Linked DNA regions of Homo sapiens: region 1 is linked to region 2. The links come from fine-mapping of genetic effects on gene expression. Tissue or cell type: whole blood. Region 2 holds a variant in brackets; the other region holds the start of a gene. All regions are shown on one strand. Distances are between the middles of the regions.

Region 1 (4,000 bases), 130 kb after region 2:
TGGGTACAAACACTGGGATTCTTGTTCCATCTCTGGCTCTGCTTTTCTGGTGGTTCAGTTTTTCCATTTGTTTTCTGCTTGAGACAGAGATGGAAATATTTGAAACCCTGATTACTCATCAACTAGGGCCTGTGCATTGAAGAGCCTGACCACATTTCCACCGGGCCCTCCAGGATGCCCTCACTCAGCAATACCCTGGATTCATTACAATGATCAGTTTCCCTGGCATTGCCTGAAAGCTTTCTGCACACCTAGGCCTTTCTTTTACTGAAACCTCTACACAGGGGGAGACAGGATCCCCACTTTCCTATCCCCAGAGCAGACTGGGCACATTCCTATGATGCCAGATGTCTAGAGGTGATTGGGTCTTTGATACTGTCTCTTTTATTTATTTATTTATTTATTTATTTATTTATTTATTTATCTATTTTGAGACACTCCAGGCTGGAGTGCAGTGGCTTGATCATGGCTTACTGCAGCCTCGACCTCCTGGGCTCAAGTGATCCTTCCACCTCAGCCTCCCAAGTAGCTGGAACTATAGGTGTGTGCCACCTTGCCTGGCTAATTTTTAATTTTTTGTAGAAATGGGGTTTCACTACTTTGCCCAGGCTGGTCTTGAACTCCTGAGCTCAAGTGATCTTCCCACTTTGGTCCCCCAAAATGCTGGGCTTACAGGCGTAAGCCACTGCACCTGGCCCTTCTCCTCCTCCTCCTTCTTCTTTTTTTTAAGGAAAAGCATACTTTATAACACAGGTCTCTAAGAAAATGCCTGGCCACTCCTTACAGGAGTCACATCCTGCCCCTCGCTACTCAATATGTTCCTAGGACCAGCAGCAGATTAATAAACTTGAGAGCGTACTAGACATGCGGAATCTCCATTTCCAGTCTGGGTCTTTTGAAACAGAAGCTGCATTTTTAACAAGATCCCCAGGTGATTTGTGTGCACATTCAAGACGTGAGAAACCCAAGATGAAGCAGGAAGTGGAGACATCGTTGCTGTGGGTCTGAGACGGGAGCACCAGCTGTGATAGTGTTTTCTAGGTCTTTGAAATAAAACCATCACGAGCCATTTTGCCTCATGTGGTGCAGCCATTTAGAGTACAAACAGTCCTGGTCTCACAGATTGGCTTCGGCACTTACTATGTGGTTTAAAACAAGTTATTTAACTTTTTTGAGTATCAATTTCTTAATCTGTGAAGTAGAGAGGACTTATCAGTTTATATAGTCAAAATTAAAAAGAATTTTAAAAAGAGGATATAACACCTTCCTTCCTAGGCAGAAGTAGGATTAAACCAGTTAACACGTCTAAATAATTTTTTCTTTACACAGTATCTGACAATAAATGGCAACTTTTTTTGGTATTATTTATCTCATATGAGATACAGAAATGCTCTTGGTTATTTATCAATTCATAATCCATCTTGCTTCAAAAAAATGAAATAAACTGAAAGTTGTTGGTCACTTGAAAAGGACTAAAAATTACGAGGCGTTTTATGGTCTCAAAGATAGTGAATTGCTATATATGCCCTGTGCAGAGTTTGGACGCAAGTATCTGGTCTCTTCAAAACAAGGAGTGGAGCTTCGCTCTTCCAGTCTCTTTTGGGTTAGTTCTGGAGGGCTGGGTAAGTTGGAATGAGCTCGTACTTAGAGGTAGCGAGACCTCTCTGCTCACAATAGCTATGATCACCCCAACTGCTCTTCTTTGCCTGCTCCCCGAACGCTCTCCCAGGCACCCGTGGCCTATCTTTTTCTTTAGTCCCCAGCTCTAATCCCTCACCCTAACATAGCACAAACAGTTCCTTACATCTGGTAAATGAGGCTCCTTGGTGCCACTAGGCAGTGCCAGGTAAGGCTGTAAGCCTTCCAGCGGTCTGGAGACACACCACCCTTTCCACTCCATCCTACTCACCTGATAAGAGGCAGAGGCCCAGAACTCTCCAGTGAGTGCCCGACTGCATCTTTGTTTCATGGGACTGTTACTTTACTAAGATGGCGGAGGCCAGCAGACTTACTACTTCTGGAAAAAAAGCAAAACAGATGACTTTTTCAAAACATCTGCTAGAGATAAGGACCCTGGGGCCATTGTTCCCAATGCTAGGATGAAAAAGGAGGGCTTTATAAGAGAGAGACTCACCATTTTCTGAAGCAGGCACCTGAGGCTGGGAGGGGAGGAGGGTTTCTGAACCCCACACAGGAAGTAGAGAGGCCTCTGGGCCTGCGGGTTTTACCTCACTTGGAAACGTTCAAGGCAGAGGCCTCCACCTGGACTGGTTGAAGAAAGCTGGGTCCCACAGCCTTCCTAGAAGGCCAAACAAGAGGACTCTGACAATACCTGGAGGGGCCATGAAAAATACATGACATTTAGCTGTCCAGACCATGTAGTAGGTTGGCACAAAAGTAACTGCAGTTTTTGCCATTAAAAGTAATTGTAATACAATATGCCTCCACATTGCGGGGTCTTCCTTCCTCTATAAGCTCTGACAGGAAGAGGGAGATGCACTGAACATTTGCTTTCTGTGTGGTGGATCTGGCATGGAGCAGCAGGGTGCAGCCATCTTATTAACAAAACTTGTTGGCTTGAAAATACATGTTGACTTAAATCCATAAGAATTAAATCCAAAGAAAAAATGCCACTTTTTACCTATATTCTTTACAAAAATATTTAAAAACACAAGACTCAATGTTGAACAGGGTAAAGAGTGATAGTGTCAAAGTCTGCTGGTATGAGTGTGAATTGATGTAACCTTTCTTTATGTTTAAGCATGCATTAATCAAATGCTTACTATATCCAAGCACCGTTCTAAGAGCTTTTCTGATATATCTTATTTAATCCTCAAAACGACCCTCTAAGGTAAGTATTATTTTTATTTTTATTTCCATTTTATACTTGAGCAAACTAAGGCTCAGGCAGGTTATCTAAGTTGCAGATTACAGAGCTGGGACTCTAGAAAACATTTTGATGAAATTCACTTATTTAATACATATTTTCTGTCTACTGTACTGTAGTTATATGCTGGGTGCTAGTAATACAGGAGAAACAAGATAAATAGTCCTCTTGGATAAAAAAGGAAATGTGGAGATTAAACAGATAACCTCATAACCAATAACCATGCCCCGCATGATGGTGTACACCTGTATTCCCAGCTACTCAGGAGGCTGAGGCAGGAGGACTGACTGAGCCCAGGGGTTCGAGACTGCAGTGAGTGTGATTGTGCCTGTGAATAGCCACTGCGCTCCAGCCTAGGCAACATAGTGAGATCCCATCTCTAAAAAACCCCCCAGATAACTTCAGGAGATTGATGCTAAGAAAAAAGACGTTCAGGTGCTGTGGGAGTGATAGAAGGGATCTAAGATAGTCTGGGGTGGGATGGGGAAGAGAAGGTCCCCCTGAGCAGGTGACATCTAAGCTGAAATTTGATGGAGGAACAGCAATGAACCAGGTGGAGTGGAAAGCATTCCAGATAGAGGCAGCAGCATGTTTGAAGTCCAGAGATGAGGAAGAGAAATGGAAAATCCAGCACGGCAGGTAACAGGGAGAACGAGGAGTGTAAGAAATAATATAAGAAATTCGCCAGATATGGTACTTTGGGAGGCCAAAGCAGGCAGATTGCTTGAGGCCAGGAGCTCAAGACCAGCCTGAGCAACATGGTGAAACCCTATCTCTACAAAAAAATACAAAAAATTAGCCGGATGTGATGGTGCTCACCTGTAGTCCCAGCTACTCGGGAGGCTGAGGTGGGAGGATCACTTGAGCTCAGGAGGTTGAGGCTGCAGTCAGCTATGATTGTGCTACTATGCTCCAGCCTGGGCAATAGAGCAAGACCCTGTCAAAAAATAAAAATGAAAAAAATAAAAGAGATAGGAAACTCAGCAGGGGCCAGATGGGAAGGGATTTGCAAGCTATGTTAGGGATTCTTAAGGATTTTCTTAGGGCTGTAGGAAGTATTCAAATAGTTTTAAAAAGGTGAGTGACAGTATCAAATTCTTATAATATTCAAAT
Region 2 (4,354 bases):
CTGTGAGCCTAAGTGCTTTATGTGCACTCAATTCTCTCCAATTCTATAAGTTTGATTTTACATATGGGGAAACTGAGGCTTAGAATAATGTCTAAAGTCACACAGCTAGTAAGTAGAAGTGCTAAAACTCACTGGGGTCTGACAGCAAATATCCGTTAACCATCCTGCTGATCATAAAAAGACATTACGACTCCTGTAATCCCAGCACTTTGGGAGGCCGAGGCAGGCGGATCATGAGGTCAGGAGATCGAGACCATTCTGGCTAACACTGAAACCCCGTCTCTACTAAAAATACAAAAAATTAGCTGGGCGAGGTGGCGGGCGCCTGTATTCCCAGCTTCTCGGGAGGCTGAGGCAGGAGAATGGCGTGAACCCCGGGGGGTGGAGCCTGCAGTGAGCCGAGATCGCGCCACTGCACTCCAGCCTGGGCGACAGCAAGACTCCGTCTCAAAAAAAAAAAAAAAAAAAAAAAGACATTCTGTGCCTTACACATTAGGTACCTTAAATTCGATGTGCTTTACTTATTTTTTATTTTAAATTTTCATTCAACATATTTTTCTTGAATACCTAATACATTCATATGGTTAAAAATTTAAGGCCGGGCACGGTGGCTCACGCCTGTAATCCCAGTACTTTGGGAGGCTGAGCTGGGCAGATCACCTGAGGTCAGGAGTTCAAGAACAGCCTAGCCAACATGGTGAAACCCCCGTCTCGACTAAAAATACAAAAATTAGCGGGTGTGGTGGCGGGTGCCTGTAATCAGCTACTCGGGAGGCTGAGGCAGGGGAATCACTTGAACCCGGGGGGCGGAGGTTGCAGTGAGCCGAAATCGCACCACTGCACTCCAGCCTGGGCGACAGAGTGAGACTCCATCTCTAAAAAAAAAAAATTAAAAAAAAAAATTTAAAAGGAGGCCGGGCGTGGTGGCTCACTCCGTAATTTGGGAGGCCAAAGCGGGCGAATCATGAGGTCAGGAGTTTGAAACCAGCCTGGCTAACATGGTGAAACCCCATCTCTATGAAAAATACAAAAATTAGCCGGGTGTGGTGGCAAGTGCCTGTAATCCCAGCTACTTGGGAGGTTGAAGCAGGAGAATCGCTTGAACCTGGGAGGCAGAGGTTGCAGGGAGCTTAGATCCCACCATTGCACTCCAGCCTGGGCGACAGAGCAAGACTCCATCTCAAAAAAAAAAAAAAAAAAAAAAAATTAAAGGAATTAAAGTCCTTAAAGTCCTCACTTTATTTTTGCTCTGAATCATCCTCTCCCCAACCTCAGTAATATTACTTACCCTTTAGTAGGAGTAACTGTTATCAGTCTATTGTATATTCTTCCATACATAGTCTATGCCTACAAAAGCATACACATATAGAAGTTTTTGCATAAATAAAAGCATATCAAACCAATTTCCTGAATCTTGCTTATTTCACTTATATCTTGGAAATATTACTATAAGTAGACAGTTTCCTCATTATTGGGGCTGTATGGAATAGAGATAGAGCTTACTTTAATCAGTTCTCTATCGGTGGGCACTTGAGTTGTTTCCAATCTGTTGCATGTATTTCACACAATGCTGCAGTGCATAACCTTTAATATACGTCATTTTGCAAATGTTCAAATGTATCTGTAGTATAGATTTCTAGAAGAGCAGTTGCTGAGTCAAAAGGTATGTACATTTGTAGTTTTAATAGACAGTGCCAAGTTGTCCCCGGTAAAGGTTATGCTAATTCATACTCCCACCAGCAATGTTCTAGAGTGCCTTTTGGCTGGGTGCAGTGGCTCATGACTGTAATTCCAACACTTCTGGGAGGCAGAGGTGGGCAAATCACCTGAGGTCAGGGGTTCGAGATCAACCTGGCCAACATGGCAAAACTCCGTCTCTACTAAAAATAGAAAAATTAGCCTGGCGTGGTGGCACACACCTGTAGTCCTAGCTACTCAGGAGGCTGAGGCACCAGAATCACTTGAACCGGGGAGGTGGAGGTTGCAATGAGCCAAAATCACCCCACTGCACTCTAACCTGGAAGACGGAGAAGAGTGTCTCAAAAAAAAAAAAAAAAAAGAAGAAGAAAAAAAGAGTGCCTCTTTCATAATTCCAGGACTTCGGGAGGCTGAGATGGGAGGATCTTGAGCTCAGGAGTTTGAGACCAGCCTGGGAAACTTGGCATGTGCCTGTAGTCCCAGCTGCTAGTGGAGCTGAGGTGGCTGAGGCTGCAGTGAGCTGAGATCAGGCCACTGCACTCTAGCCTGGGCAAGAGAGTGAGATGAGACCTTGTCTCAGAAAAAGAAAAAAAATAATTAATTAATAAAATAAAATAAAATAAAATAAATAATAGATAAATAAAAGTGCTCCTTTCTCCACAGCATTCCAAAAAGGGTTTTTTTTT[TA/A]ACTTTTTTGATCTTTGTCAACCTAATGCACATATTTTAAATTTTTTCCAAGTGACAGAAGGAAACTTTTAAGAAGGGAACCCCAAATTTTGCCAATTTCTGCAAACGAATTAATTACTTCTGTTTAAGGGGACTTCTAGATATTTATTCCCTTTCCCCCTCACCTGGAAAGATTTATCTTGAGAACCAATATTGTGACAGAATTAACATCAGCTCAGAGTCACAAATCTGGGCTTGATTTGCATGTCCAATAATGTTAGCTATATGATCTTGAACCAGGCACCCAGCCTCAGTACGTCTTAGTTTCCTAATCTGCAAAAATAAGGATATTAATTATAGCTTCACAAGATTATCATGAAGATTGAATGAGTAAATAAGATGTCTTCTCTCTAATCCAGACAGAAACATTTTCTCCCCAGGGATTTCCTTAACCACTGGTGCGGCTGCCCCTCTGAAATTAGCAATTTTTTCTCCAAAGGGCCCCCAAGTGGACACATTGCATCAGTAGTCCCAAAGTCCTCCAACAAAGAACAGTGGCTGAGTTATTTAAGCTTGTCCAAAGGAAGGCTTGATCATCACTGAGCAGAGAACTGTTCAGAATCCTCAGGTGCTGCTTTTTTTCTGGGGAAAAAAGGGTACAGTCCATTACTCTTCCACAAAAACACTCTTCTAATTAAGGAAGCAATGGCTGCATTTTACCCTGAATCCGTGAATTTCCATTTCTGAGCTTTAAAAAAAAAAAATTATATATATTGGCCGGGCGTGGTGGCTCACGCCTGTAATCCCAGCACTTTGGGAGGCCAAGGTGGGTGGGTGACCTGAGGTTGGGAATTCGAAACCAGCCCGGCCAACATGGAGAAAACCCTGTCTCTACTAAAAATACAAAATTAGCTGGGCGTGGTGGCGCATGCCTGTAATCCCAGCTACTTGGGAGGCTGAGGCAGGAGAATCGCTTGAACCCGGGAGGCAGAGGTTGCGGTGAGTCGAGACTGCGTCATTGCACTCCAGCCTGGGCAACAAGAGCAAAACTTCATCTCAAAAAAATAAATTATATATAGCTATTCCTATGACTAAAAGGACTTTTTTGTTTGTTTGAGACAGAGTCTCACTCTCGTCCAGGCTGGGGTGCAGTGGTGCAAACTCGGCTCACTGCAACCTCCGCCCCAGAGTTCAAGCGATTCTCCAGCCTCAGCCTCCTGAGTAGCTGGGATTACAGGCGCCCACCACGACACCCGGCTAATTTTTGTACTTTTTTTTTTTTTTTTTTTTTTGAGACAGAGTCTCGCTCTGTCATCCAGGCTGGAGTGCAGTGGCGTGATCTCAGTTCACTGCAACCTCCACCTTCCGGGCTCAAGGAATTCTCCCACCTCAGCCTCCCTAGTAGCTGGGATTACAGGTGTGTGTCACCAAGCCCAGCTAATTTTTGTATTTTTAGTAGAGACAGGGTTTCACCATGTTGGCCAGGCTGGTCTTGAACTCCTGACCTCAAGTGATCCATCCATCCCAGCCTCCCAAAATGCTGGGATTACAGGTGTGAGCCACTGCACCCAGCCTTAATTTTTGTACTTTTAGTAGAGATAAGGTTTCGCCACCTTGACCAGGCTGGTCTCGAACTCCCGACCTTAAGTGCGGGTCAGGAGTTCGGCTTCGGCTTCCAAAGTGCTGGGATTATAAGCATAAGCCACCGTGCCCAGCCTAAAAGGACTTTAAATACAACCCTAGCATAGGCATCTGGCTTTCTGTAAAGAGGTCAGGAGTTCGAGACCAGCCTGGCCAACATGACAAAACCCTGTCTCTACTAAATATACAAAAATTAGCCAGGCATGGTGGCGAATGCCTGTAGTCCCAGCTACTCGGGAGGCCCAGGCAGGAGAATCGCTTGAACCTGGGAGGCAGAGGTTGCAGTGAGCTGCGATCACACCACTGCACTCTAGACTTGGCGACAGAGTGAGACTCCATTTCGAAAAAA

The links. PIP is the estimated chance that this variant, and not a neighbour inherited with it, causes the effect.
Region 1: CD3E starts here. The variant in region 2 is the best candidate, but not a certain one, in a credible set for the expression of CD3E in whole blood (INTERVAL, PIP 0.78).

Annotation. Positions count from the first base shown.
Region 1 is chr11:118,302,911-118,306,910 of GRCh38, reverse strand. CD3E (CD3 epsilon subunit of T-cell receptor complex) reads right to left here and starts at 2,181. Exons shown (of 9, transcript NM_000733.4): 1 at 2,135-2,181; 2 at 1,910-2,017. The coding sequence starts at 1,958.
Region 2 is chr11:118,429,676-118,434,029 of GRCh38, reverse strand. No RefSeq gene overlaps it. Among named protein-coding and RNA genes, the nearest start is that of KMT2A, 4.6 kb to the left of the region's middle. The variant TA/A (reference allele first, on the strand shown) is at 2,385.